Linked DNA regions of Homo sapiens. The protein of the gene in region 2 interacts with the protein of the main gene of each other region in a pairwise test. Each region holds a gene or a part of one and is shown on either strand. Other genes may lie near its edges. The genes, in order: CTNNA1, CDH1, MYNN and C11orf65.

Evidence for each region.
Region 1: the proteins of CDH1 (region 2) and CTNNA1 interact in binary tests that used the Homo sapiens proteins (3 or more experiments, as listed by UniProt).
Region 3: the proteins of CDH1 (region 2) and MYNN interact in binary tests that used the Homo sapiens proteins (3 or more experiments, as listed by UniProt).
Region 4: the proteins of CDH1 (region 2) and C11orf65 interact in binary tests that used the Homo sapiens proteins (3 or more experiments, as listed by UniProt).

What each region holds. Positions count from the first base shown.
Region 1 is NC_000005.10:138,924,194-138,931,666, reverse strand, and holds part of CTNNA1 (catenin alpha-1), read right to left. Parts: intron 7,158-7,473; coding exon 6,957-7,157; intron 6,412-6,956; coding exon 6,260-6,411; intron 2,422-6,259; coding exon 2,311-2,421; intron 1,195-2,310; coding exon 1,013-1,194; intron 838-1,012; coding exon 732-837; intron 1-731. UniProt on the Homo sapiens protein: Associates with the cytoplasmic domain of a variety of cadherins. The association of catenins to cadherins produces a complex which is linked to the actin filament network, and which seems to be of primary importance for cadherins cell-adhesion properties.
Region 2 is NC_000016.10:68,817,082-68,824,554, forward strand, and holds part of CDH1 (cadherin-1 isoform 1 preproprotein), read left to right. Parts: intron 1-2,198; coding exon 2,199-2,344; intron 2,345-4,919; coding exon 4,920-5,144; intron 5,145-5,367; exon of another isoform or gene 5,368-6,151; intron 6,152-6,317; coding exon 6,318-6,545; intron 6,546-7,473.
Region 3 is NC_000003.12:169,768,330-169,776,447, forward strand, and holds the start of MYNN (myoneurin), read left to right. Parts: upstream 1-5,066; 5' UTR 5,067-5,133; intron 5,134-5,701; exon of another isoform or gene 5,702-5,768; intron 5,769-5,935; 5' UTR 5,936-5,966; coding exon 5,967-6,232; intron 6,233-8,118. Other genes in the region: ACTRT3 (actin-related protein T3), read right to left, coding at 1-21, 992-1,191.
Region 4 is NC_000011.10:108,464,057-108,471,623, reverse strand, and holds the start of C11orf65 (protein MFI), read left to right. Parts: upstream 1-4,094; 5' UTR 4,095-4,153; exon of another isoform or gene 4,154-4,672; intron 4,673-7,567. UniProt on the Homo sapiens protein: Acts as an inhibitor of mitochondrial fission. Interacts with MFF and prevents DNM1L recruitment to mitochondria, promoting a more fused mitochondrial network.

The DNA.
Region 1 (7,473 bases), on a different chromosome or scaffold from region 2:
GTAGTCCAAGTGGCTATGGAGATCTGCAGAAAGGACAAGACTGGTTTGTGTCAAGATACATTTGGCCAATGGAAGCAATAGGCCCTATTACCGATTGTGTGGGAGTCAAGGATGCCTTTACAATCTTTGGCTTGTGTAAGGAGGCTTGTGTCTCACACATCCTGTGGCCTAGATGAGGCTGAGAGTTTGGCTATTTCAGGGAAAATGGTGGGGAGGCTTGTTAACTACAGAGAAAAACTGTAACTGAGAAAGAGCTTCTCTTGATCAGGCTTAAAACACCAAATGAAATGTATTGTACAATTTCCAGGCGGTAGGAACCGTATTTTTGTACCTATCAGTGTGAGGGAATAGGGGGATGAAGACGGGGTGGCTGAGAAACACAGTGCTGAGGATGAAGAAACCTGGGCCCATCTAGGCACACCAGCCTTCCACAGCACTGGCCACATGGCTTCTGGCTGCTCTCGGCCCCTGCCCAGAGGGGGAGAGAGGGAACTGAGACATAAGAGACAATAGCAGAGGTTAATTTTGGCTACCAAGCGATGGAAGATTCCAGGACATACACATCCGCTCTAGAGAATCCTTACAAATCTATGCTGGGATTAATAAGAACCATTTTTAGAGATGAGTGGCAAAAGTGCTGTGGCCCATGAAACTTACCCTGAATGGACCAGGCTGGGCTGCCTGAGCCCCAGGAGGAGCTTGGAGACCCACCTGGCAAGTCTGTCACTTACATGGTCTGCAATGGTGCGGCCAAGCTTGTCCATCCTGGATCCTGCCTCAGCAATTTTCTTGGCAGCACTGATGACATCCGATGTATTTTTGAGTGGTCCTTTACCTCTGAGAAGAGGGAAGAGAACAAGGATTATTGTATGTGAAGCCCCTCACAGTTGGAGTAGAAAAAGAAGATTGTCCACAAAGCCCCATGGCCTGGGCTGTCTGAGCCGCTGCGCAGGTGACCTGTGGGGAAGAAAGTAGCCCCTGTGCAGCCTGGTGGGGCCGGGGTGCTGCTCACCGGGTAAAGTCTGTCATCTCCATCATAATCATGCACATCTGCTTGGCCAGCACAATGATGTCATTGCCACTGTCGTCCCATTTGGACACTTCAGCATCCAGCTTGCTCTTTTCTTCCTGGAAGCTGGCCACCTGTTCCGCAATCTTCGCTTTTTGCTCCTGGGGAAGCTGAGCCATGATCGCCTGTGATCAGAAGCACAAAGAGCTCTTACATAAAAAGAATATGAAGTTCTCAGAGTGCATTAGCCAAGAATATTTCCAACAGGCAATCTGTGGCATAGGTAGGATAATGCTTTAATAGGTTTCATTTCGCCTGAAGGGCTATTTCTCTCATTTTTTGCAGAAACTTATGGCAGCCTGAATTTCCGACCCACTTTTGAGCACAAGTTTTAGTGTGGAAGGAAACAGCGAGGGGTGGAAGGCTAATGTGGAAGCTTTGGAATCACACCTGTGCAGGGACAGAACCTGCTTAATTCTTATTAATATAAGACAAGAAATGAGAGAAGGGGTTGATGAAAGTGTGGAGCCCTTTCCCTGGTGGGCCCTGATGGACATTTCCAACTATTCAAGATGAACTGAAAGTGGCTTTAGAATGTACACCTGAAGAAAGAGGGCTGAGAGATACCGCTGGCACTCAGGCCATACTTGAGCAACACCTGGAGGCCTGCTGCCCACCTCCAGCCCACAGACCTACGGCTGGGGAGCTCCTCCCTCTCAGCTTCCCTAAGTGCTCATGACTGAGCAGGACATAAGGCAGGGATGTGCTCGCTGTTCACGACAGATTTCCAAGGAGTGAAATCAAAGACTCCTTAGAAATATTTCTTGGCATCCTCCCCAAAACATAAATGCTATTGATTGAAGATTTAATGACTCAAATGAATGCAATGGCTCTGACTGGCTTTCTTGAATGTACCACTGTTATTTTTTAAACCCATGAATAATTAAATAGTTCATACCCATAGTATCGAGATGGACAAAGGCAGCAATCTTTTTCAAATTTCACGATCCTTTCAACAAACACTGCATTGACTAAATCTTAGCCCTTCCCTGACCCAGGGCTCTATCATAAACTAAAGCTCAGGGCACTGCAGAGGAGGCCCAGGACCTGGTCTGCCTCTAGCTGAGGAGGCTACATTTGACTAGCAGGTGCCACAACTTAGTTTAACTTCAGTCTACTGCCAGAGAGACAGAGAGAGAGAAACGGTGTTCTGAATACTGAGGGTGTTTTCCTGGAAACAAGAAAGGGGACAGGGAAAGTCGGCAGCACAAGCTGAACTGCCCCACGGAGCGCTTCCTTACCCGGGCACTCTGGCCAGCTATCAGCTGATCGTCTTCTGTCTGGACGCTCGTCCTGCTTCTGACATCAAAATCTTCTGTCTCAAAGTCAGAGTCATCCAACTCCTCAGGGGTCTGCCACCCAGACAAAGATCACAGGTCAGACACATCTCTGGGCCACCAGCCCCCAGCCACCCTGAGCCTCTTGGCCAGGTGCACGGAGGCCCAGAATTCTGGATTTTAATGTGCAGTGTTCTGAACAGTATGGTGAATAAAGTCAAAATCACTCAGCATTTGTCTCGAGCCTCTGCTTCACTGGTGCACACGCTGGGCTGCCTGGCCCACAGCAGGCCTGGGCTGGTTTCACTGTGTGTGGGGCTCAATTGCTATCACTGAGTCAATTCACTATTTCTTTGTAAGACATGATTGTTTTTTTTTTTCCTTTGAGACAGAGTCTCGCTCTGTCACCCAGGCTGGAGTGCAGTGGCGTGATCTTGGAATCAATGCAACCTCCGCCTCCCGGGTTCAAGAGATTCACCTGCCTCAGCCTCCCAAGTGGCTGGGATTAGAGGCAACATGCCACCATGCCCGGCTAATTTTTGTATTTTTAGTAGAGACGGGGTTTCACCATGTTGGTCAGGCTGGTCTTGAACTCCTGACCTCAGGTGATCTGCCTGCCCTGGCCTCCCAAAGTGCTGAGATTACAGGCGTGAGCCACTTGTGCCCAGTGACATAAGGTTTTTACTTCCTAATTTACTTCCCCAACACCGGCATTTTAAGACAAAGATGAGAACTGTCCTGGGTAGAAAAGGTACTGACTTAAAAATAGAGGTGTTTTGTATAGTATTAAGCGGATTTGTATAACTTTCCTACTTTATGACAAAAAGAAAATTAAATAACTGGGCCTTCTGTTAGGGTACCAAGGCTGCTTGGAGGAGTAAAAATAGGCAATGTATTTTAAAGTATTCTTTTGACTTTCATCAAAAGAAAAGAGGGGAGAATATGGCAGGTGAGGGCTGAGTAAATACCCAAGGGACTGATTACTGGTCCTAGCTCTTTGCTTTAATTATGAAATAAAATTCTTATTTTGTACCAACTACCAGCCTCTCATGATTAGCTACTGACTTGAAACATAATGTTGTCCTCTGGCAGTTATCAGTAAGGGGGCAGCAGGCAGAACAGCTGGGGTTGGCGCTCAGCCCAGCCGGCTGGCCTGTGACAGGAGGGCAGTGAGGCGAGTCTCTCGTCTGTGTACCAGGACATAGTCCAAGCCCAGCCCAAGGACTTGCAGTGAGGTTCAAACAAGAAGATATGCAAGAAACATTCTGGAACCACCAAGAACGTGCTGTGCAAAGGCTGGGCCTGTCCCTTGATGAGGTGAGAACAGTGGACGCTCACGCAGGGGACCAGACAGCATGTCGGTGTGAGGTCCTGGAGGCCGATGGACTCGGTGGCACAAAACACAATGCCAGCACTGACAGTTTTAACGCTGCAGTCACACATGCCTTCGGGACTGGCATGCAATCAATCAGTTAAGGGGCTTTTCAAAGGACCACCTCCTAACATCATCTCTACCTCCCCAGCACCCCATCGCAGACCCAAGAACCGTTCTTGCCAAGAAAACCGAGTACTCTCATTCATTCATTCATTCATTCATTCATTCATTCATTATCTCTCTGCCAAGCACTGTTCTGGGCCCTAAAGATACAAAGTGACAAACAGACAAAAATTCCTCTCGCATATTCTAATGGAAGAAATGACAACAAAGTAAGCAAATGAATTATATGACACATCAAAAGTGACCAGTGCTATGAAGAAAGCAGTGATGAATAAAGGGAGATTTTAATTCTATATGGGTGTTTGGAAAAGTCTCACGAGAAGGTGCTCTCAAGGAGGGGGAAGGGGGGGCGGGTGGCAGCATAGAGGCCGTGGGGAAGGGGCATTGGCCCAGGGAACTGCGTGAATAGCAAGGAGGCCACAGAAGGGGGGCTTAGCTCACTGCCCCCATGTCACCGGCTTGCCTGGAACCCCATGAGTACAAGAGGAGATCAGCAGGAAATAAGGTTGGAGAAGTGACAGGTTCCAGTCCCAGAAGGCCTCGTAGGCCAGCATAAAGAATGAGTGACGTGGCGGCCTGTGGAGACGCTGGCACAGAGGATAACATGATCTGATTGAAGCTTACAGAAATCGCTCTGGCTGCCCTGTGGCTCATGAGACTGTAGGCACCCAGGATGGGAACAGGGAACCAGCTGAGTGGCACCTGCATGAACCCGGGTGAGAGGTGCTGGTGGCTTAGACGAGGGTGAGAACATGTTCAGGTTCTCTACTGTGAACGGAGAGCCAAAAGAATTCACAGATAAAGCAGATGTGAGGTATGGGACAAAAGGGAAATAAAAGATTCGAGGTCTGGGCCCGAGCAAGGGAAGACGGAGTCACTATCAACTAACATGTGCTGCCTGGGTGGAGCAAGTGAGAGGGAGGAGGCAAGGTGCGCAGACAGGTGTGGAACTTAGGAGAGTCGGCCTCTAGACAGGACTCTGAAGAGGTCAAGGACTTCCCAGCAGGCCACACCCGTGTTTCACAGGCTGAGGAGATGGGGAGAAACCAGCCAAGGAGACTGAGAAGGGGTGTGGGTCAAGAGACTTTTTTTTTCCCCCTAAAAATGGGAGAAATCATCATAGGCTTGGGGAAAGGTACAGGAGGCAGGGGGTGAAGAAGCTGGGATCCTAGTACAAAGACGTGCAAGGGATGGCCTTGGCCAGAAGCACCGAGAGCAATGCCCATGGTGCTAGGAGGAAGGTAGAGCACACAGACATGGGATGCAGAGGGGTGGACGCACTAACTGCCTCAGTATCCTCAACGAAATCGGCAAGTGGGCCAAACAGGACAGGGGCACAGGTGTGGGTGGGTGGGTGGACGCCTGTTGCAGGGCAGCAAGGGCGCACAAATGGCCGCGGCTTCTGCGGCTCCATCAGCGTGGCTGTGGCCATCTGCACTGTGCTCAGGAGAGCAGGATCTTGCCAGGACTGCACCTTGCAAGGCAGGTGTGAGGAAACAGCAGGGCAGAGGAGTGAGTATATTCAACTATGGACTCAAAGCTAACAAAGGACTGAACCAAGGACACAAGGGGCTGAGTGACACATGGGGAGGACCAACTGACTGAAGACCCCACAGTAGACTCAAAGGCTCGCTGGGAGTTGCAGGACTCGAGGGCGCAACCTGAACAATAGATCTAGGCTGCTGGGGATGACAAAGACAATGGCAGGCAGTGACAAAAGCTGAGGTACAGCTATGGCCGTGAGGTTGAGGTGGAGGAGGACAAGACATCAAGAAACTGAGAGGCCCAGGGGCTGGATGATTCTTGAATGAAGACAGGAATAGTTGTCAGAGAGCAGGACGGTATGCCGGGAGCTCAATCACAGATGCCATAGAGGCCCCTTTCTCCTCTGCCCCTGCGACAGAGGCCCTCCAGGCACTCTGGCTATGGGGAAAGGGGCTCGGCACTTGGCCATGAGCCTAGGAGCATCACCTGGGGCCGCTCCTCCCCCCAACACCCTGGGGTTCCATCATCCCGTCTGCCTGCAGCCCCTCCGAAGAGAGGGGCACTTCATGTGAACAATAACTTGAATCCGCATTATGAAAATACTTCCTTCTCTGATACTAGCTTGAGAACCATTATTTTCTATAATTTCCTGCCTAACTCAAACTGAAGCCTCATGTTGTAGAGACTGTTTATCCTAAATTAAATCGTCAACTCAGGCTAGCTCCCCTTCTTGGCCCAAGTTTGGGCTCTAACTTGCAACTAACAGTCATTTTAGACAACGTAATTAAATATATCTCATTCTAACAGCTTTTAGATTCATGGTTTTAATATACTGCCACCGCATCTGCCGAGTTCTAGAATGACGCATTGCTCAAGTTTAGCAAATGATAAGAAAGAAGCTGTTAAGACGTCTGAAATGCAGTTACTCACCCTTATCATCAGCACTGCTTTCCTGATGTCCCGGATGCCATCATATACCAGGCGGGAAGCATCGATAAACTCATTCTCATCCATGGGCTGGGCAGGGTCCGAGCTGAGGGCTTCCACGGCTGCTTCTACTTGCTCAGTAAAACGTGGCATGACTGTGGAGAAAGAGGCACAGTAGATACCCTGGTCAGCAGGCAGCATCATTCCCCTGGCCCTCCCTGAATCACTCAGCTAGACAGAAAGAGGTGAGGCTTATGATGAGCCTCTGCTTCTACCTGTGTGAAGGGTATTTACAGTTGAAATAAATTAAATGCAGTATTTTACGACTCAAATCATCTTTTTCTCTGCAACAGAGATTGGATGGTTGAGAACTTGAAGTGAGACTAACTTGAAGCCTTGCTTAAGAATGGGACCTACCTTAATTTAGTCTTTACTCACTAATAGGAGATTTAACTCAGAAATTCATCTTAAATCGTGTGTTTAGAATTAGTCCCGTGATTACTCATGAGATACAGATGAAGAAAATATGCTTGTGAGGCCTGAATTTGGCTATGACCAGCTTCTCAGGAGCCCGATGTGCCATGAGACCAAATCTGAGTTCCCAACTCCTCCTTCCTCACCACAGGGCTGGGCTAATGGGGTGGCCTGCCTCACTGAGGCTGCGGTGTGTGCGAGCACTGGAAAGGGAGAGTTCCCGTACCTGTGTTGGAGAGCAGCTTAGTGGCTTCCAGAACCTTCTCTGTGTAGACTCCTGGCTCATAGTTGTCCATCTCTGAGGTGACTACGTGAATGACCCGGGCTGCCCGGCCTCGAATTGCACCAGCTGTGCGGTCCAGGCCATCCACATCCTTCTCTTGGAGAGCAATGACACATTTGTTCACATCTTCCAAAATGTGATTCTCTGGAGAACAAGCAAAAAGTTGAATGAGGAAGGAGGCTTTCTATGAAAAGGTGGCAACTGTAAGCTGGCATCTATCATTTATTGTTTGCTTGGTGCCAGCCACAGTGCTGAAAGTTTTACATATACTTCATTGGAGAGACCAGTGACTAGTGACAGAGACAGAAACTAAACCTGTTATCACCCCCAAGAATAACAATCTTCATTCCAGGTTTTTAAAAAAAAAAAAACAAAAAATAAAAAACACACACAAAAAAAACAGGAGACATGCCCATCTTTGAGACACAGCTGTTCTGTAATTTTCTGGCAGAAAATTATC
Region 2 (7,473 bases):
GCTTTGCACTTCCAAAGAAGTGAGGCCAAGCCCACAGTTTCTTAGAGCCCTTTCCTCCTTTGATTTCTTAGTTTCTCTTTCAGAGCCTTTCCATGACCCTAGTAAATAACTGAGCAGTAGATCTCTGTTAGCCTCCCTGTACCTCCCATTAAATGGCAATAGTGCAGTCCACCCACAGGTCAACAGGGCAACCTGCATCTCCAGATGTTCATGACAGGAGAGGAGGTGGCATGTTGCCACCATTTAGGAACTACTGTATTGTTTGGGGGAGCTGGTCTGCAGGAGTCTGCTTTTAAAAATAAATAAGGATTATAGTAATCATTGCTTCAGCAAGAATCATCCACAGATGCCAAATCCATTGGGTGAAAATTAGTTGCTGAACAAGATATTCTCAAATTATCTACCTGCAGATTATAGGTTAATCATGCAGTGAAAAAAGGCACCTTTGCTGTGAAGAAATCTGGTGGCCTTTCCCTTATCCAAGTGATCAAAGTTATCAATAGAAGCACAGACAGACATCATGTGCCTCCCAGTGTCCTGCACTAGGGAGGCCACAGCATCACCTCTGTCCTGTTCTTGCCCCCACCGACCCCTGAAATGGATTACCTGAATCTAAATTTTGAGGAATAATCAGACAAACCCAAGTTAAGGGGCATGCTACAAAACAACGGCCAGCACATTTCAAAAATGTCAGTGACAGAAAAGAAAGACCTAAGGAAGAGCCATGCCAACGAAAGGCCATATTGGATCCTGAATCCAGAAGGGTGCAAGGTTGCTATAAAGGACATTTTTGGAAAATCTGACAATTCGAATATGCACCATATATTCGACAATAGAATTCTATCAAAGTTTTGTTTCCTAAAATTGAAAATCAAGACTGGTCACGGTGGCTCACACCTGCAATCCCAGTGCTTTGGGAGGCCGAGATGGGTGGATCATCTGAGGTCAGGAGATCGAGACTATCCTGGCTAACATGGTGAAACCTCGTCTCTACTAAAAATACAAAAAATTAGCCGGGCGTGGTGGCGGGTGCCTGTAGACCCAGCTATTCAGGAGGCTGGGGCAGGAGAATGGCATGAACCTGGGAGGTGGAGCTTGCAGTGAGCTGAGATCACGCCACTGTACTCCAGCCTGGGCGACAGAACGAGACTCTGTCCCAAAAAAAAAAAAAAAGAAAAGAAAAAAAAAGAAAATCAAATTGGGGTTATATAACAGAATGCCTTTGTTCTTAGGAGATAACACATTGACATATTTATAAGTAAAGGAACATGACTTCTGCAATTTATTTGCAGATGGTTCAGCAGAACAAGAAATTATGTAGGCGTGTGTCAATATAGACAGAGCAGATGTGGCAAAGTATTAACAATGAGTAAACTCAGGTGAAGAGTTCATGGATGGTCATCATACTATTATAGTAACTTGTCTGTTGTATTGTTGGTTTTCTTGGTTTTCTTTTTTTTTTTTTTTTTTTAAAGACGGAGTTTCGGCCGGGCGCGGTGGCTCACGCCTGTAATCCCAGCACTTTGGGAGGCCGAGACGTGCGGATCATGAGGTCAGGAGATCGAGACCATCCTGGCTAAAACGGTGTAAACCGCGTCTCAACTAACAATACAAAAAAATTAGCCGGGCGTGATGGCGGGCGCCTCTAGTCCCAGCTACTCCGGAGGCTGAGGCAGAAGAATGGTGTGAACCCAGGAGGTGGAGCTTGCAGCGAGCCGACATCGCGCCACTGCACTCCAGCTTGGGCTACAGAGCAAGACTCCGTCTCAAAAAAAAAAAAAAAAAAAAAGAAAGAAAGGGTTTCACTTTTGTTGCCCAGGCTGGAGTGCAGTGGTGCAATCTCGGCTCACTGCAACCTCCATCTCCCAGGTTCAAACGATTCTCCTGCCTCACCCTCCCCAGTAGCTGGGATTACAGGCGTGTGCCACCACACCCAGCTAATTTTTGTATTTTTAGTAGAGACAGGGTTTCACCATGTTGACCAGGCTGGTCTCAAACCCCTGACCTCAGGTGATCTGCCCACCTCAGCCTCCCAAAGTGTTGGGATTACAGGCATGAGCCACCGCGACCGGCCTATTGTTGGTTTTCAAAATAAAAACGTTGGAAGTAACCATATAACTGAAGAAGCGCTTAAGCCGTTTTCAGCTACATGTTGTTTGCTGGTCCTATTCTAAAAGCCAGAGCTTGTCCCCGTTCAGATATCGGATTTGGAGAGACACTGCCAACTGGCTGGAGATTAATCCGGACACTGGTGCCATTTCCACTCGGGCTGAGCTGGACAGGGAGGATTTTGAGCACGTGAAGAACAGCACGTACACAGCCCTAATCATAGCTACAGACAATGGTAAGGGGGCCTCATCTGAGCCTTTGCTGCCTCGACCTCCTAGCTAGTTCAGTTCCTTGCCCCTCCCTTCTTTTGGAGGGAAGAGTTCATTCTTTTTCTTTTATCCTTTTTGTTTGCTGGATTGATTTGTATAAATGTATGGAGTACAAGGGTAATTTTGTTACATGCATAGATGTGTAGTGGTAAAGTCAGGGCTTTTAGGGTATCCGTCACCCAAATAACATGCATTGTACCCATTAAGTAATTGTTCATCATCTACCCCCTCCCACCCCTTGGACCCTTCCCAGCTGCCATTGTCTATCATTCCACAATCTACATCCATGTGTACACATTATCGAACTCCGACTTCTAAGTGAGAACATGCAGTATTTCTCCTTATATGTCTGATTCGTTTCACTTGAGACAATGGCCTCCAGTTTCATCCATGTTGCTGCAAAAGATTTCTCTTTTATTCTTAAACAAAGGCATTCTTATTATCAAAAATTCAAGTGGGCTGGGCACGGTGACTCACACCTGTAATCCCAGCACTTAGAGAGGCTGAGGTGGGAGGATCACTTGAGCCCAGGAGTTCAAGACCAGCCTGGGTAACATGGCAAAACCCTGTCTCTACAAAAAGTACATAAATTAGCTGAGTGTGTTGGTGAGCACCTGTAGGCCCAGCTACTCAGAAGGCTGAAGTGGTAGGATTGCTTGAGTCTGAAAGGTGGAGGCTGCAGTGAGCCAAGATTGCGCCACTGCTCTCCATCCTGGGCAACAGAGCAAGACTCTGTCTCCAAAAAAAAAATTGTTTTTTCAAGTAATTTTGGTCAAACAGAACTTACTTTTCACTACTCACTCTTTATTCCTTCCCTAAGGGAACCAGGTAATGATGGTTTACAATCCATTTCCAAAGCTTAATACTTGTGTGACCTTGGATTTGCTGTTTAATTTTTTTTTTTTTTTTGAGACAGAGTCTTGCTCTGTCACCCAGGCTGGAGTGCAGTGGTGCAATCTTGGCTCACTGCAGCTTCCGCCTCCCAGGTTCAAGCAATTGTCCTACCTCAGCCTCCCAAGTAGCTGGGATTACAGGTGTGCACCACCACGCCCAGCTAATTTTTTGTATTTTTAGTAGAAACGGGGTTTCACCATATTGGCCAAGCTGGTCTTGAACTCCTGACCTTGTGATCTGCCCACCTTGGCCTCCCAGAGTGCTGGGATTACAGGTGTGAGCCACCGTGCCTGGCCTGCTGTTTAATTTTTATGTCCCTCAATTCCTTTACCTGAAAAATGTTAATACCCATGTGGGTGAAATTAGTTAGGTGTTAAATCAGTTAGGTGTGGGTCCTTCCAGACTGCTTCTGTGTATTTAAATACATTTATAGGCTGGGTGCTAGGGTCACACCTGTAATCCCAACACTTTGGGGGTCTGAGGTGGGAGATGGCTTGAGGCCAGGAGTTCAAGACTAGCCTGGGCAACATACTGCCCATAATCTCAAAATGCTGGGATTACAGGCATGAGTTATCATGCTTGGCCTCCTTGAGTTAATTTTAAATGACGTGTGCTCATTGTTAAAAAATAAAATTTACATGAGAAAAAAGTTTTAAAAATTTACAGTCATGCCATCTAGACATATCTATTTATAGGTTTGAGATGGATTCTTCTGTTGTTTTGTATCCGTATCGTATACTAATATTGATGATAGTTCCCTGGGTACCAATTTTTCCTACTACCATATGCTCCGTGTTGTGTCAAGATATAAAAGAAATGCAAACAGAAGTGTGGATGGGCTGGGCGCAGTGGCTCACGCCTATAATCCCAACACTTTCAGAGGCTAAGATGCGAGGATCACTTGAGCTCAAGAGTTCAAGACCAGCCTGAGCAACATGATAAGACCCCCTCTCTACAAAAAAAATTTAAAAACTAGCCAAGCATGGTGGCATGCGCCTGTAGTCTCAGCTACTAGGGAGGCAGAGGTGGGAGATTAAGCCCAGGAGGTAGAGGCTGCAGTGAACTGTGTTCATGCCACTGCATTCCCGCCTGGGTGACAGAGTGAGACTCTGCCTCAAAAAAAAAAAAAAAAGCGTATGTGAACTCCCCAATCTATTTTGAAAACCAATTTGCAGAGACTTCAAAAGACCCAACTCATCCCCTTTGATTTTAAGCTTCTAGTCAGGCTTAAAATTAAAATAAATAAAAAGACTCAATGCTTTGTTAATGACCTCAAATGGCAGGAAAGTGCAGAAAAAGGAGAACTAGGGAAACAACAGGCAGGCAATAGGACTTCTTGGAGTAGTTAAAATTCAGTGAATGAATAACGATATGTGAAGAAGGAGGAGTGTGTTCTTGGTGTGAGGAATAACTTGAATAATTGTTATCAAGGTGGGAATAAGTTGTCTGTGTAAAACGGCCAGAGACCTGCCCACCTGGGAGTGGAGGTCCTTTGGGATTGGTGGGACAGGAGGTTCTGCGGGTGGAGTGGGGCCTGGTGAGGGACCACTGAAGAGCCAGGACAAGATCTAGACTTGGTCTGGTGGAAGGCAATGGGGATTCATTACTGTTGCCAAGCTGCCACATTTTCTGTGTATTTTCTCTTAGGTTCTCCAGTTGCTACTGGAACAGGGACACTTCTGCTGATCCTGTCTGATGTGAATGACAACGCCCCCATACCAGAACCTCGAACTATATTCTTCTGTGAGAGGAATCCAAAGCCTCAGGTCATAAACATCATTGATGCAGACCTTCCTCCCAATACATCTCCCTTCACAGCAGAACTAACACACGGGGCGAGTGCCAACTGGACCATTCAGTACAACGACCCAAGTGGGTACCTGAGTTTTATTTTGGCAACTTTGCTCCAACTGCCATGCTTCCCTTCCCCCAGATCCCCACCTTTCAATTTCCCTTCTCAACTTCTAGATGTCACCCCTTCCATTGATACTTGCTTCCTTGTCCCTTCTGTCTTTGAGGCCTTGCTCCAAAGGTCTTTTTCCTTTCCTGGTATCTAACTTTGTAGCATGCTACCCAGTAATCTAAAACCCAAGCAGGGCTCCCTCTCCCAGCCTCTAGCCACCCTCCACTCCCCTCTCCACTTGCAACCAGGACCATCTTCTCTGCTACCTCCTGCTCCTGGGACCAAACAACACCATTTTTGTGGTTAGCTCCTTCTTGCCAACCAATCGTGAGCTCCCAGATTCATCAGAACTATTCTACCGAGGTGGAGGCAGCTGTCAACTGCCTGGTCAATTTGCATATATGGGCTTCCTACACCTACTTCTCTCTGGGCTTCTATTTCCACCATGACGATGTGGATCTGGAAGGTGTGCACCACTTCTTCCACAAATTGGCCAAGGAGAAGCACAAGGGCGCTGAGTGTCCCTTGAAAATGCAAAACCAGTGTGGCGGCCGCACTGTCTTCCCGGACATCCAGAAGCCATGTAAAGATGAATGGGGTAAAACCCTGGGTGCGATGGAAGTCACTCTGGCCCTGGAGAAGAACCTGAACTGGACCCTTTTGGATCTTCATGCCTTGGGTTCCACCTGCACAGACCCCCATATCTGTGACTTCCTGGAGAGCCACTTCCTAGATGAAAAAGTAAAACTCATCAAGAAGATAGGTGACCACCTGACCAACCTTCACAGGCCAGCCGGCCTCCAGGCCGGGCTGGGCAAAAAGGTTCACCCTCAGGCACACGGGAGCCTACCGAACCCAGCGACATCTGAAGAGCCCCGCTCTGCCTAAGCCTCTCCCTCCAGCCACTAGGCAGCTTTTTTAAACCAACTCTAGAGCCCTCTCCCAAGCCTTAGACCAAATGGAAATAAAGCTTTTTACAGCAAAAAAAAAAAAAAAAAAGTACATACCTAAATAAAACCCAAGCAGCTCTGCTCTCTTCACTCGGCTTGCGGGTGTCTTTAGTTCACTAGCAATTTTATTCTGGAATGAGCTTTTTATTTTCCTCCCCTGGTCTCATCATTTCTTTTTATTGCTTTCTCCAGCCCAAGAATCTATCATTTTGAAGCCAAAGATGGCCTTAGAGGTGGGTGACTACAAAATCAATCTCAAGCTCATGGATAACCAGAATAAAGACCAAGTGACCACCTTAGAGGTCAGCGTGTGTGACTGTGAAGGGGCCGCTGGCGTCTGTAGGAAGGCACAGCCTGTCGAAGCAGGATTGCAAATTCCTGCCATTCTGGGGATTCTTGGAGGAATTCTTGCTTTGCTAAGTAAGTCCAGCTGGCAAGTGACTCAGCCTTTGACTTAAAAAAATGGAGGAGGTTTATTTCCTGGAAATGATTTTTGTTCTTATATTAATAAGGATATAGGTTAGCTGATGTGGGAAAGAGACTCCCAAGTTATGCCAGCCTCCATAAAATAGAAGTTTGTCTCTTACTGAACATTTCAGAGGTAAATGGTCTAAGATGGGAAGGCCATGAAGTCAACAGGGGACCCAGGTTTCTTCTACCTTGTCTCTTTTCATTCTTCAAGACAGTGCATCCCAAGCTTGAGAGCATACAAATCATCTGGGCCTCTTTTTGAACTGGGAAATCTGATCCAGGAGGTCTGGCATAGGGCCACAGATTCTGCATTTCTTTTTTTTTTTTTTTTTTTTTTGAGATGGAGTTTCGCTCTTGTTGCCGAGGCTGGAGTGCAATGGTGTGATCTCAGCTCACTGCACCCTCTGCTTAACAGGTTCAAGCGATTCTCCCGCCTCAGCCTCCTGAGTAGCTGGGACTATGGGCATGTGCCACCACGCCCAGCTAATTTTGTATTTTCAGTAGAGACGGTGTTTCTCCATTTTGGTTAGGCTGGTCTCAGACTCCCGACCTCAGGTGATCCACCCGCCTCAGCCTCCCAAAGTGCTGGGATTACAGGCTTGAGCCACCGCACCCGGCCAGATTCTACATTTCTAACCAGCTCCCAGGCGGTACTGATGTTGCAGTTCCTTAGACCATAGGCAGAGTAGCAAGACCTTGGGGGCTGCCCTCATCAGCGTGGTCTAAGCTAGCCAGCTCACCACCACCACCTCTACATTCCATCCTAGATTGGGGAAGGGGATAACAGAGGAAGTGGAGGCCAAACGACTGGAAGTTGCATATATCACCTCCACTTATATACCATTGGCCCAAACACAGCCACATCTAGCTGCAAGGG
Region 3 (8,118 bases), on a different chromosome or scaffold from region 2:
AGACCACGCTCCACTGGGTAACTGTAAGGAAAGCAATAAGATCAATGACAGCTTTTTATTTTTCTAGTTTCTATTGTCTTCGACCCTCAGTTAATTCCCCGCGTTTATTACCAATATCCCTTTATGGGCAATAACTGCCACAGCCTCTCACAGCAGGTAAGTGTCAGCCAAAAATAGCACAGCTACTTACCTCTGCAATTTTTTTTTTTTTTTTTGGAGACAGAGTCTCGCTCTGTCACCCAGGCTGGAGTGCAGTGGCGCGATCTCAGCTCACTGCAAGCTCCGCCTCCCGGGTTCACGCCATTCTCCTGCCTCAGTCTCCTGAGTAGCTGGGACTACAGGCGCGCGCCACCACGCCCGGCTAATTTTTTTGTATTTTTAGTAGAGACGGGGTTTCACCGTGTTAGCCACGATGGTCTCGAACTCCTGACCTCGTGATCCGCCCTGCTCGGCCTCCCAAAGTGCTAGGATTACAGGCGTGAGCCACCGCGCCCGGCCTACCTCTGCGATTTTTGTTGCTTTCCATTTTCTCTGTCCTTTGGAACCTTGTGACTTTTAAAAAATTGGGAAATGTCCACATTATAGTATAGTTTAAATGTCAATTGAAGAGAATAACCCAAGTGACAAAAGGGACCATGAGTTAATATTCTTAAATGAATTCGTTCGATAACTTTATACGTTTTAATACATTTGTATAGCCACAGAGAGCAAAATGTTCAGTTTTTAGATGTGTGGTACCCTTGGAGATTTGTGGCCCGTGCGTTTGTAGTAATTCCAGCTGGATGGGGCTTTCCAGCTCCCGGCTTTCTTATTCTTTCTGTCCCCATTGCGCACCTCCTTTGGGGTCCTTTCCTGCCCCCCGACAACACCCCCAGTCCCCCCACCCCCAGCCACCCCAGCCCCACCCCCCAACCTCCCCAGCCCCACCCTACCCCACCCCCACCCCACCCACCCTCCCCAGCCCCAGCAGCCTGCTGGGAGAAGGAGGTACCTGATGAACAGCGAGCTCCTCCAGTCCTGAGCTTGGTCGCCCACGCAGAGTTCTAGCCCGCCCTGGGCCGCGCGGCTCTGGCCCTTGGCGCGGCCGATAATGTTCGGGTAGATAAACTGGGGCTCCCGGCACCCAGCCACGCCCGCCTTGATCATTCCCGAGCCGTTGTCGATCACCACCGGTAGCTGGCAGTGGTTCATGCCGCCGCTGCTGCCGCCGCCTCCTGTCTCTGAGCCGCTCTAGCTACGGGCTCGGCCGGGGCCGAGTGCCTGGAACGCCGCGTCACAGAGGCCCCGGCACGGCCGGGTGAGGCCAGAGTCCTGGGGGCGCAGGCAGGGGGTCGGCAGGGCCCCAGGCGGAAGGACTCGCTGGACGCACCGTGCTCCTCATGTTACCGCCCGCTATTGCTTCTCGCAGGAATTGGGCCACCCCAACACCTGGAATCCCGGAATCCCAGTATCAGGAAAACCCGACTTTCGCATCAAAAGATTCAACTCTAACCCTTCACAAGTGCATTTCTCAAATACCCAGAAGAGCTATAACAGCAGTTTTATTTTCCAAAGCCACGGAATTCTGGTTAACTGGTGGCGGTTCCGGGGAGTTCTAGAATTCGCCCTTGAAACTGGGGAAAAATGAGACTTAAGAGGAGAAAGTTGTTGCAGGAAGGGAGGCAGTGTCTGCTTCTGAAATGTTAAACTTCTAAAATAAGGAGAAAAATGCTGGAATTTAAATGAGTTTTAAGTACGTTTATTATTGTTTCTGTACCTTGGGCAATGCTTTGTTGTGTTTCTTCCTGTGATTTCCAAGCAAAATGTACGCAATTAAAACAAAATAGTAGTTCCTAGCTTAAATATGTAAATAAATATAAATTTATATATATTTATATAAATATATATAAATTTAAATATAAAATATTAAAAAATATATAAATTTATATAATTTATATAAATATATGTTATATTATATAAATATATTTATATATTTATAAAATATATATTTATATATTTAAGCAAGGATATAAATCGAAATATATATATTTATATTTATTATATGTATAAATATAAATATATAAAAATTTATATTTATATTTATTATATGTATAAATATAAATATATAAAAATTTATATTTATATATCATAAATATAAATATATAAAAATTTATATTTATATATCATAAATATAAATATATAAAAATTTATATTTATATATCATAAATATAAATATATAAAAATTTATATTTATATATCATAAATATATAAAAATTTATATTTATATATCATAAATATATAAAAATTTATATTTATATATCATATATAAAAATTTATATTTATATATCATATATAAAAATTTATATTTAGATATCATATATAAAAATTTATATTTAGATATCATATATAAAAATTTATATTTAGATATCATATATAAAAATTTATATTTAGATATCATATATAAAAATTTATATTTAGATATCATATATAAAAATTTATATTTAGATATCATAAATAAAAATTTATATTTAGATATCATAAATAAAAATTTATATTTAGATATCATAAATAAAAATTTATATTTAGATATCATAAATAAAAATTTATATTTAGATATCATAAATAAAAATTTATATTTATATATCATAAATATATAAAAATTTATATTTATATATCATAAATATATAAAAATTTATATTTATATATCATAAATATATAAAAATTTATATTTATATATCATAAATATATAAAAATTTATATTTATATATCATAAATATATAAAAATTTATATTTATATATCATAAATATATAAAAATTTATATTTATATATCATAAATATATAAAAAATTATATTTATATATCATAAATATATAAAAAATTATATTTATATATCATAAATATATAAAAAATTATATTTATATATCATAAATATATAAAAAATTATATTTATATATCATAAATATATAAAAAATTATGTTTATATATAATAAATATATAAAAAATTATGTTTATATATAATAAATATAAAAATTTGTTTATATATAATAAATATAAAAATTTATGTTTATATATAATAAATATATAAAAATTTATGTTTATATATAATAAATATATAAAAATTTGTTTATATATAATAAATATATAAAAATTTATGTTTATATATAATAAATATATAAAAATTTATGTTTATATATAATAAATATATAAAAATTTATATTTATATATAATAAATATAAATATATATATTTCGATTTCTATCCTTCTGGTGTAATCTGCAAGCCTCATTCGCTACTCTTGATTTTTAGGCTGAAGGACGTGCCTGTCTTTTTGCAGGAAAAGTGAAGTTTATCAGGTCATATGAAATTCAAGTTTGGAAAAATTTGAAAGTACATTGCATGTCAATAAACGCATCTTGGTGTCTGATTCTGCATACATCTGTAGAGAATTTGAAAACAAGCAGTCAATTTAGAACTTCTGCTTGGTCTTCGGAAGCAAAAAGAGGAAATTCAAAAGTAATTTTACACGTCCTTCCACCAGAAGCTGAAAGGATGGCTTTTTCGCGGCTGAATAACGAAAGCCCCCTGCTTCGCCCCGGACTCTGAGCAGCTCAACCTGCGGAAAGGATGTGTAATAAAACGCCTTTCCAGGGAGACAAAAAAAAAAAAGGCCACCCAAAGGAAGGGCAACTCGGGAGTGCCTGGTTTCTACTGCGGTACCCGGGCACTTTGGAAGAAAGTGCGTGCAGATTCAAGCTTTTGAAATGGTTTCAGCTCTGTTCAATTGGGCATAGGCTATTTTTCCTTTTCTGTTTTTTTCTTTAAATACATTATATTCATTCCTCTCAATTTGATAATAATCACTTGAGAATTGCGAATTGACACTTACATATCAAGGACTTTACAAAACCCTCTCCAAAGTGGGGTTTCCGTAGTGTAGTGGTTATCACGTTCGCCTAACACGCGAAAGGTCCCCGGTTCGAAACCGGGCGGAAACACACTAAAAAATCCCTTTTTTTTTTTTTTTTTTTTTCCTTCGCTTGGAAGAAAGCGTGAGATCACGCTTTGTTTTCTTTTGTTGTTTGTTTTGTTTTTTTTTCTGAGGGAAGCCTTAGCTTAATGTATGCCGGTCCTTCAAAAGACATGATAGCAATTTGAGAGTCTGAACTGTAAGTTTTTGTTACTTTATTCGTTCACCAAATGTTTTTATGGAAGCCTTGCCACGTGGAACATGTGTCCCGGGTTTTAAAAAATGAATTTGACTCACCAGCTAACACTGAAAAAATAATGTACAGCCTAGAAGGAAAGATCAAAGTGTAAAAGTGGTTAGTCCTGTCGCCTCCTGAGCATTTTTGTATTATATCACTTGGTTTTTCGTCTGAAGTGGCTGTAAATAATCGTATTAAAAATCTTCTGGTCCAGACGCAGGAAAACCTTTTCCGGTATAAAGCCCACCTTCCTCTAATGTTGCGCATGCCCACTGTGCCCAGCTGCTCCGCTTTCGTGCATCCCAGACTTCTGTCACCAGGTAAGGGCATCTTGGAAGCTGAGCTACAGTTGGCTGGGGCACAAAAAAACCAGGGGGTGCCAAGAGTTTTCAGGTACGTAAGCGGGAAAGGGGTGCCAAGTCTCAGCTAAAAAATCCCCTATGGCAGAGATCCGAGTACACATGCAGCAGTTTCCACCGGTGGGGCCCCGAGGAAGGGGAGGATGATGGGAGAAGACAAGCAACTACAAGCCCCCGCACGCAGTGCGCAGCTGGCTTCAGGAGAGAGGCCCGCGGTGCTGTGCTGCCGGGCCTCGGCGCAGAGCCCCGGCAGAGCGCCAGACGCTGACTGCCGGCACCAGAATGCTCGCGATGAGGAAGACAGGCGGAGCGCTGCGAGCTAGCGAGCCCTCAGCTCTCGTATCCATGACGCCTGCTGCTTCGGGGGACCCCTGGCATGCTGGGGAGTGGGTCTCTGTGGTACATCCTGTACCGCCCTGGCCGGCGCCGGACCCCCATGGCCCCAGAACCTCCCGCACTGCCACGGGAAGACAGAGCCGGACGTGACGCCACCGTGGAAGGAAGGGAGGGGCGGAGCGTGGCTCGGTGACGTCCTCCCAAGATGGCGGAGACAGAGTGAAGAAACTGTGTTCCCCCCTTGGGTTGCTATCGGTGAGTTCCTACTTCACCCCCAGCCCGCCATCCCGGTCTCTCTAGAGCCTGGGCCATCAGAGGGCAGGCTCCTTGGAGTTCCAGCACGGGTCGGGGCGCAGGTGGAAGGCTTGGGCTAGGCAGCCCCGGGGTGGCCTGGGCCACAACCTCTGCTGTGGAAATTCGCGGGAGTGGGAGCTGGGCAGAGGGCAGGGCGGCAGAAGCCGAGGAGGGACTGGCTTTGGTTGTCACTCTCGGATGCCGCCTCGCGTAGAGAGTGGGAAGGGAGAAGGTGTGGCCTCCTTAGCGCGAGTGATAGAACCTTTGACAGCAAGCCATGGCCGGGCGCATTCCCGGCTTTCTGGGCAGCCACCTCTCGTTTTGGAGAAACTGCACTGGGGAAACTAACAGGTTTTGGTGACTTGAGAGCAGTTTTTAAAAACTCGTACTGTTCTGCCCCTATCTGTCCCAAGAGATCATGTCTTAGTGGTTTAAAAAATTTTTTTGTAACATAAGTATGTCTACTGAGCTTGAAAATCTGAGGGTTCAACAGATGTGAAAGCGTCAGGTTTTGCTGTGCTTTTTGCAGGTGGTAGAAGTGTTGCCATTCACCGTCACTTATTGATGTGTCCAAAGGATTGTGTTAGTTGATCAAGGTAACCAAAGATAGAAAGGCACTCATCCCTTCATTCTTAACCATGTATGTTTGATAAGGATTTTCAAGGGGGCTAAAATTGTTTAAGTTATGTCCTCTGTCCCTTCCCTCACTGAACGTTGATGAGAACTTACGGTTACTGATTTACTGTTTCTTTTTGTCTTTTAGATCAAGGGTAAAATTCCATTCTGATATCAAAATGCAGTATTCGCACCACTGTGAGCACCTTTTAGAGAGACTGAACAAACAGCGGGAAGCAGGTTTTCTCTGTGACTGTACCATAGTGATTGGGGAATTCCAGTTTAAAGCTCATAGGAATGTGCTGGCCTCCTTTAGTGAGTATTTTGGTGCGATCTACAGAAGCACTTCTGAGAACAATGTCTTTCTTGATCAGAGTCAGGTGAAGGCTGATGGATTTCAGAAACTGTTGGAGTTTATATACACAGGAACTTTAAATCTTGACAGGTAAAGTACACATTTTATTTTCAGTTATAAAAGCTAGTCAGTAGTCTTCACAGCAAAAGTAGATTTGTATTTTTTCCATTCATTCTCTGAACTCAAATTCTTCACCTATTTATGCACACAATGTTTGTTTTTATAAAGAAATCAGTATCACTGATTTAGGATGAGCAGGCAATATTTTTCATAAGCACAGATAATAAACAGTAAGATTTCTGACACGTTTATTTACTGAAACAAAGCCTGTGATTTCACTTATGTAAACTTGAACATTAAACACAATGAATTTATTTTATTTTATTTTTGAGACGGGCTCACCGTCACCCAGGCTGGAGTGCAGTGGGGCAATCTCGGCTCACTGCAACCTCTGCCTCCCGGGTTCAAGCGATTCTCCCACCTCAGCCTCCCTAGTAACTGGGACTACAGGTGTGCACTACCACACCTGGCTAATTTTTGTATTTTTTGGTAGAGACAGGGTTTCACCATGCTGGCCAGGCTGCAAACAAAAAATTCTAAGTTACTTCCAGTTTCCCATTGCTTTTTGGTCCTTGAATTCCTCTGGTCTTCTGTCTCCCTCATTCTGACTCCTGTTATCTCTATTAACCTACCAGTACTAATACTGAAGTAAGGTCAGAGATGCTAGAATGATTCTCTAAGATGCTTACTGATGTCACTGCATTAACAAGAAGTGGGTTCTGAGGAATCTGATAATGTAGGCACTGTGTGTCTCCCCTGTATAACGAACCATATAATTAGATTAATATCAATACATTTACAGATTGTAGGGGAAAAGGTGGAGGGAATAAAAGCAAAGAGAAACTGATTAAATTACCCCTGTCTTATTTCTGTCTCTCTTATGAAAGTGAACATGAATAGACTGTTCATAATCTTCTGACACAGGAAGATTATAGGCTTTGGAATTAGATCTTTCCTGTCAGTCGCTATGTCTCCTTGAGCATGATGCAATCTCTCTGGGCCTCAGTTTCCCCATCTGTCAAAATGAGATGGTAATAACTACCTTGAGGCTAAATAAGGTTTTACTTGATCCTTATTCACTTCCCACTGAACGTTAATTTCTTTATTTTTCTTCTTTACCCTCTCCTCCCCCTTTAATTCCACATTTCTCGGAGAAAAAATAGAAAAAACAAAAAAGAAACACCTGAAATACTGCTGCCCACTGATAACCCCTGTTAACCTTTTGATATATATTAATTAATTCTTTTCCAGATCTCTGTAGAGATGTGCATGTATACATTAAGCAAAATCTTTCCCTCCCTTTTATATTGTAACTTATCATGGAAATATACTTATTTAAAAATCTAGAATCAGGGTGCTCATTAATCCTTTTGACGAGGAAACATTCTTGTGTAAGAAGTATCCAGTGGGGGGAGGGGAGGGAGAGAAAAGTAAACTTTCATGCTATTTTGGAATTATTTTTAAATTTTGGTATAATGAAATCTTCAAGTGAGTTCTTTATAAGTTGATTAAAGGAAAAGAGCAGTGTGAATTTTGGCTGGCCTGCAATTTAATGGTTTCCCTTTCTCTCAATTAACTATGCAAAACAAAAAAATCTTCATTTGAATACACGGTAGAGCACTTTTCTTTGAGACTTCATGCAAAGAACCAATGTGAAGAACAGCCAGGTGTTTTGTTCAGTCTCTTTTGGTACATATCTTTCCTGGAGACTGGGGAGCTAATTCCTCGAGTTCAGCTAGAAATGTAAGAGAGGATTTATACCAAAATAGAAAGGCTTACAACTTAGTGATTAAGAAAACAGGTAGAATATATTAAGTTGGCTCAGGGGCCAGATTACCTTGGTCAAATCTTGGTTCTAACATTCTGTGCTCTTGGACAGGTTACTTTATTTCTTTGGACTTCTGATTTTTCACTTG
Region 4 (7,567 bases), on a different chromosome or scaffold from region 2:
ATCATTACAGTGAAAGAGATCTGACCTAACCAACTCCATCTTGATTCTAACCTCCAAGCTGTCCCTGTTTATTCCTGGGCATAGGCCAAACTAACCTTGGGAGGAACTTAGTTTATAGTTTAACTTTGAAACAAAGATGGTAACAGCGCTTTCCCAAAAGAAGCCCTCTTCATGCCTGAGGATTAGACTGCCTTTGCAGGACTAACAAATTAGCTGAAACATAGAAATTATGATTTAGGATTCATACATCTGAAGGCTGCCAGACTTTGAGCCTCCTCAAATTGCTCCTGGGGATAACATCACTATTGTAAACCTAAAATCAGTGCTTGAGATATTTTGCAGACCCTGCACTTGATGATTCCACTAGCATCACTCAGATCAATAAACTGGCTTATCTGGTCTTGTGGCCCCGACCCAGGAACTGACTTAGCATAGGAGGACAGCTTCGACTCCCTTTGATTTCATCTCTGACCCAACTAATCAGCAGCTCCCCACTTTCTGATCCCCTACCCACCAAATTGTCCTTAAAAACCACAATCCCTGACATTTCAGGGAGACTGATTCAAGAAATAAAACTGCGGTCTCCCATACTGCCAACTCTGCAAGAATTAAACTCTATTGCAATTCCCCTGTCTTGATAAATTGGCTCTGTCTAGGCAGCAGACAAGGAGAACTCATTGTGTGGTTACAGTCTCAAAAAAAAAAAAAAGAAAAGAAAAGAAAAAATATTTAAGCTTGGCACCATTATTTTTGTTGATGGTGAAAATACTAAAAGGGGCCAGGCATGGTAGCTCACGCCTGTAATCCCAGTACTTTGGGAGGCCGAGGTGGGTGGATCACAAGGTCAGGAGATCGAGACCATCCTGGCTAACACAGTAAAACCCCATCTCTACTAAAAATACAAAAAATTAGCCAGGTATCATGGAGGGCGCCTGTAGTCCCAGCTACTTGGGAGGCTGAGGCAGGAGAATGGCGTGAACCCAGGAGGCAGAGCTTGCAGTGAGCTGAGATCCTGCCACTGCACTTCAGCCCGGGCAACAGAGCGAGACTCCATCTCAAAAACAAAAAAAAAAAAAGAAAAAGAAAATACAACAAGGGTACACAGAAGACAAACAGTCCCCTGGCATAACAAGAGTCACTGTAGTGAAGAGGACAGATTTCTCAGCCAAGAATTAGCTAAAGGTGCCAACTCCCTTCCTCTAGCCTCTTCAAACTGCTAAGCCTCAACAAGAGGATTGATGCCTGGTTGGAGGTCCCTCTGGCCTCCTTTAGGACCACTGCAGGACCTGTGCCTTTGACCCACACCCACTCCTCATGTGTGACATTGTGGTTTTCTACTACATGACATATTTTCCACAATTATAAAAGATTCCATGCTCACATCCGGGAGACAGCCTTGGAGTCCCCTATTGTTGGAGTTTGCTCCAGTGCCAAAGCAGAGAGGAAAGAAATGGCATATAATTGTGACTCTTCTCCCTAGGCAAAATGGCATGTAATTGTGACTCTTCTCCCTCGGCACTACAGATATTTCCCCTTTCCTCATGCCAATTCATTTTTGTTTCCTTATCTCTTGTCTTCACATGGTTTATAAAGAAAAATCTTTGCCTTGTAAGTGGAAAGCAAGAATATTAATTTCATAAATATAATATGATATATTGTATAATAGTAGTAAGACAAAGAAGAGAGAAAAAGAAGAGGAAGAGAATAAGTGGAGAGGGGAAGAGAGAAGGAAGGAAGGAACGATTTCTGTGAAACCACCCAGAAGTTCTTCTGAGTTCTGCGTCTTAGTAAACTGTTCCTAGATTTAAGCAGGTACATATAAATGAATAAACCTAACACTTGACAGTTTCTAGTCTTAATGATCCCTTGTGGCTACTTTAAAGAAAGATACTTTTAAAGAACTGAACAATTTTTACATGTATTAGAGCAATAAGAAAATGTTCTAGCCTGTTATGTAGAAATTGCTGAATTCTTGTGGATCAGGTTAGAGGTAACATAAGTACTCAACAGTAACTATTGTAAATACTTTTTAAAATAATTCAGATAAGCACTACATTAAAAATATGCAGTTTATTAGGTTGATGCAAAAGTAATCGCGGTTTTTGCCATTATGTTTAATTATGTATGTTTAATGACAAAAACCGCAATTACTTTTGCACCAACCTAATAAAAATAATATCTAAACAGCAGTATACCTTAAATTTATTTTTATATTTCATCCAGTACATTTAGGAATTTTTGTTCTAAATTATTTACTGGCTTAGTTTTGCAGTTTTTTAATTTAAAATTTTTAAATTGTGGTAAAATATACATAAATTTATCCTTCTAACTAGTTTCAATTGTACAATTCAGTGGACTTAAGTACATTCACATTGTTGTGTAATTTTGAATTTAATTTTTTTTTTTTTTTAGAGGGAATCTTGCTGTGTTGCCAGGCTGAAGTGCAATGGCGCTATCTCGGCTCACTGCAACCAACCTCTGCCTCCCGGGTTCTATCAATTCTCCTGCCTCAGCTTCCTGAGTAGCTGGGACTACAGGCAGCGCGCCACCAGGAGATTGAGACCATCCTGGCTAACACAGTAAAACCCCGTCTCTACTAAACATACAAAAAATTAGCCGGGTATCATGGAGGGCGCCTGTAGTCCCAGCTACTTGGGAGGCTGGGCTAATTTTTGTATTTTTAGTAGAGAGGGGGTTTCACCATGTTGTCCAGGCTGGTCTTGAACTCCTGACCTCAAGTGATCCGCCCACCTCAGCCTCCCAAAGTGCTGGGATTACAGGTGTGAGCCACCACACCTGGCCTGAATTTAAATTTTTTAACCCAGTTTCTATTAGATTGAAAATTAAGATATACATAATGTTTCCATGACTATATTTTTACAGTTTATTGTTCATAACTACTGTGTATTAATGCATCAAGGCAACTACATAAAGAGGAACTGAAGCTCACCCCTTGCTTATGATTGTGATGATTTTAAAGAACTCTGGAAGTTCAGTGAGTCACTGAATTAACCTACCAAGAATTTTTTCTGTACAAATGTTTTCATTATACAGGGAAATTTCTCTTCAGGTGTTTCTTTTCCCTCCTTAAAAGTTTATCTTCCTTACAAACAAATTATATTCCATGCATGAACATAGGACGAACATAGCAAAACTGGGCAGTTCTGAACAAGATTTTTTCACATTGCAATAATCTGTGACCAACTAAAGCACTGCCAAAGTGTCAGACTCAGAATTCAAGCAAGTCAGACTTGCTTTAGATAAGCAGTGCTTGCATTATTTAAGGTCATTTGAAAACTCATTCAAGAGGTCGTCTGTTTTCACTTAAAGCAGTTTAGCTTAACCAGCTGAAGAGCTTACATTTAGAAATAACATTGGACTGCAAGTCACGTATTCTTTGACCTTGAGCAAGACCTGTCAAATAGCTAGAAGGATCAGTTGTCTCATTTTCAAATGAATAAATTAAACTAATTAAATAGGCCGGGCGCGGTGGTTCACGCCTGTAATCCTAGCACTTTGGGAGGCCAAGGCGGGAGATGGGGTAGGGGGGGATCGCTGGAGCCCAGGAGTTCAAGACCAGCCTGGACAACATGGAGAAACCCTGTCGCCACTATTAATAAAAATAGAAAAATGAGCCTGGCGTGGTGGTGCACTCCTACGGTCCCAGCTACTCGGGAGGCTGACGTGGGAGAATCACCTGAGCCAGGGGAGTTCCAGGCTGCAGTGAGCCGAGATCGCGCCACTGCACTCCAGCCTCGGCCACAGATTGAGACCCTATCTCAAGAAAAATTTTACAAAAATTAATAGAAAATATTTCATTATATTTCTCAACATCTTTAAGGTTCTTGGTTGAAATGACTGGGCTTTATTATATACTAAGCCCAACTTCGTAGACAATCACTTTGCTTTCCCTTCCAAAATCCTTTGCCTCAAAGCCACTGACAATCGAAAGCGGGCTTCTAACAGAACCAGCAGCCTTCACAAGCGGTTGGTCTATATCCCCTGCACTTTGTCAGAGCGCGAATAGAGGAAAGGCGGGGCCTAGAAGGCGGGGCTAGGAGGGCAATGGGGCGGGACAGAACGGATTGAGTTACGTCATTTCCGCCTGCGACGTTACCTAGGAGTCCAGCGGCGCCCGGGCCAGCAGCGATTGGTAGGTGAAGGGAATAGTGTCCCTTCTCTCAGCGCGTACTACTGTTCCGGTAGCCTTTGTGCCCACTGGTTTGAGCCTTCGTTGTTTCAAGGCCCTAAAGAACCCATACCCTTGATACCATTCCCCATCCGCCCCTCTTAAGGACGTTTCATTCCTCTAAAGCCCTCCCAGCGAGGCCTCCAGCTGGTTTACAGTCCTGCCCGGGAGTAACCCCTTCCTCAGAGCTCCTTTCCTCGCCCTCGGTGAAGTTGCGTCGGGCTGGTTGACAAGTCCTTACTGCTCATACTGCGCCTTCACAGATCCCCACACCCCAATCCTCCGCAAAGATATTACTCCGTCCACCTTCCCGCTGACCGGGAAGTACACATTAATCTTCCTTAGATTTTTCCTCATTTCTTTCCTTTGCCCCCTCCCATTTGTTTTACGTCTTTTCAGTTTTTTTAGAGATGGAAAAGGGAAACGCGTTTTTAAAGAATAGGTTAGTTTTTCTTCTCCTGCCCCTAGCATCAAGGACCACAGGTAAAAAGGAAAAGCGAAATTACGAAACTTATAAAGGCCACGCGAATCATTTGTTTATTCAATAAATTTAGTAGAGGAAACAAAATAGGACGTATACAGGTTCCAATTCAAGCAAAGTAAAGATTGTTTGCTGCTTTAAAAGTGAAACCAAGAATCCAAACACGTCTTGTGGGCTTTTTTCCACGAAGCGTAAAAATAAATAAGTGAAAACATCATCTATTATGATAAAAAATTTTATTGATTAGGGATATAATAAGCTTGGAAAATACTTATCTGTGAATCTACAAGTGGCACATGGGTGTAGTAAAATACTTCATTGCCTGAGCAGTTGTTTGATAGTACATTTTATTTGGTTAGTTTTTTGTTGTTGTTTGTTTTTGAGAAGGCATCTCGCTGTGTTGCCCAGGCTGAGTGCAGTGGCGTGATCTCAGTTCACTGCAACCTCTGCCTCCTGGGTTCAAGTTATTCTCCTGCCTCAGCCTTCCGAGTAGCTGTGACTGCAAGTGTGCGCCACCACACCCAGTTTATTTTTGTATTTTTACTAGAGACAGGGTTTCACCATATTGGCCAGGCTGGTCTCAAACCCCTGACTTAAGGTGATCTGCCCACCTTGGCCTCCCAAAATGTTAGGATTACAGGCCTGAGCCACCAGACCCGGCCTGGTAGTACATTTTAGTATCTTAAAACTTATGAAGGGTTTTCACAATGGTTATTTTATCTGGAGCATCATAATAACCATATAAAGTCGATCTTATTTCTTATCTAAAGCCAGCAACGGTCCCACCCTCCTTTCTGCTCCAGATGGTGTCCTCTTACACCTACTCAAAGGTTTTACCATTTAACTTATCCCTTTTTTTGCCCCTTTAAGTTCTCCGTCACTTTAATTTCTCCCTCACTACTGGATGGTACATTTTAACATGCTTTAGAATCTGTCGTTTTTTGTTGTTGTTGTTGTTTTTTTTTTTTTTTAGACCGAGTTTCACTCTTGTTGCCCAGGCTGGAGTAGTGGCATGATCTCGACTCACCGCAACCTCCGCCTGCCAGGTTCAAGCAATTCTCCTGCCTCAGCCTTCCTGAGTAGCTGGGATTACAGGCATGCGCCACCACACCCAGCTAATTTTGTATTTTTAGTAGAGACGGGATTTCTCCATTTTGGTCAGGCTGGTCTCAAACTCCCAACCTCAGATGATCCGCCCACCTTGGCCTCCCAAAGTGCTGGGATTACAGGCGTGAGCCACCGCGCCCAGCCTTTTTTTTTTAAAAAAAAACCTTTAATCCATTCTCACTCTCTAGCTACACCCCATTTTTCTGCTCCCTTACAGCACTCCAAAGAATTACTACTGTACTTACTGTCTCAACTTTCCCACTTCCTCAACCCAACCCAAACTTCCTTCCCTGCTTACTCCACTGAAGCAGTGCCTGTACAGTCACTAGTGACTTTATCTGGCCAAATCTCCCTTTTTTTCCTCTGTATTTACTTGCCCTTGCAACAATATTTGACACAATTGAATATGTTCTTTCTTGAAATTGTGGAACTTCATTGTTTATTTCTGAATCAGATAATTTTGAATGCTGGAATATATTTCCTCTATATTTTGTGTATTCATAAACATATAATGGTGGCATTTATGACATACTTTTTTGGCAGCTTCTAAACACCCTTTAGCCTATGTCACTAGAGAAGCAGGAAGCAGGTGTATGCAGAAAGCCCGTGTAAAATTATTTAGATCAAAGTATTCAATAAACTGGTTCAGGATTTTCAAGGGATTTTTAAGATCCAGTGTTAAATTTCCACCTACAAAATTGGGAATGTATTTGGGAAAATGATGAAATTGTGATGAATTAATGCTAATGCTGTCACGTTAAATAACACACACACTACATTGATAACAGGTAAAAAATCTCACAGTTTAGTTCTTGGAAAGTATTAAAAGACCCATTTTAATCCTAATATCTAATTTACGTTTAGTTTTTTACTTTTCTAAAATTTAGAGTCAAGCATTCCCATAGAATGTTTATGGGCATAAATTAGACACCATTTTTGAGGACAGTTTGGCAGTGTTAGGTTTCAATATGCACGCTGTTTTTTTTAATGAAGTTATATTGTATATATCTGAACTAAATGCACATTGTGGAAAAATACCAACAGCATAAAAGAGTATACTGGAACAAAAACATCTCTTCCCTTTCCGAACCCAGGCTCCTCAGTCCACAGGTCCCTTCCTAGAGACAATCATTCTTAGTAATTTCTCATATCCCTTTCCAGAGAGAGTCAATTCAAATATATATGTGCACCAGGCGCAGTGGCTCATGCCTGTAATCCCAGCGCTTTGGGAGGCCGAGGTGGGTGGATCACGAGGTCAAGAGATGGAGACCATTCTGACCAACATGGTGAAACCCCATCTCTACTTAAAATACAAAAATTAACTGGGCACGGTGGTGCACACCTGTAGTGCCAGCTACTTGGGAGGCTGAGGCAGGAGAATCACTTGAACCCGGGAGGCGGAGGTTGCAGTGAGTGGAAATCGCGGGGAGGCTAAGGCAGGAGAATCGCTTGAACCCAGGAGGCGGAGGTTGCAGTGCACCAAAATCGCTCCACTGCATTCCAGCCTGGCGACAGAGCGAGACTCCGTCTCAGAAAACAAACAAAAAACAGAAATATATATGTGCATACCTTTTGTCATAGCAATTCCACTTGTAAAAACTATCCTACAAAAATTGTTGCCGCTGAGCGCAATGGCTTATGCCTGTAATGCTAGCACTTTGGGAGGCCAAGGCGGGTGGATTTCTTGAGGCCAGCAGTTCGAGCCCACCCTGGCCAACAGGGTGAAACTCTGTCTCTACTAAAAATACAAAAATTAGCCAGGCGTGGTGGCACACACCTGTAATCCCAGC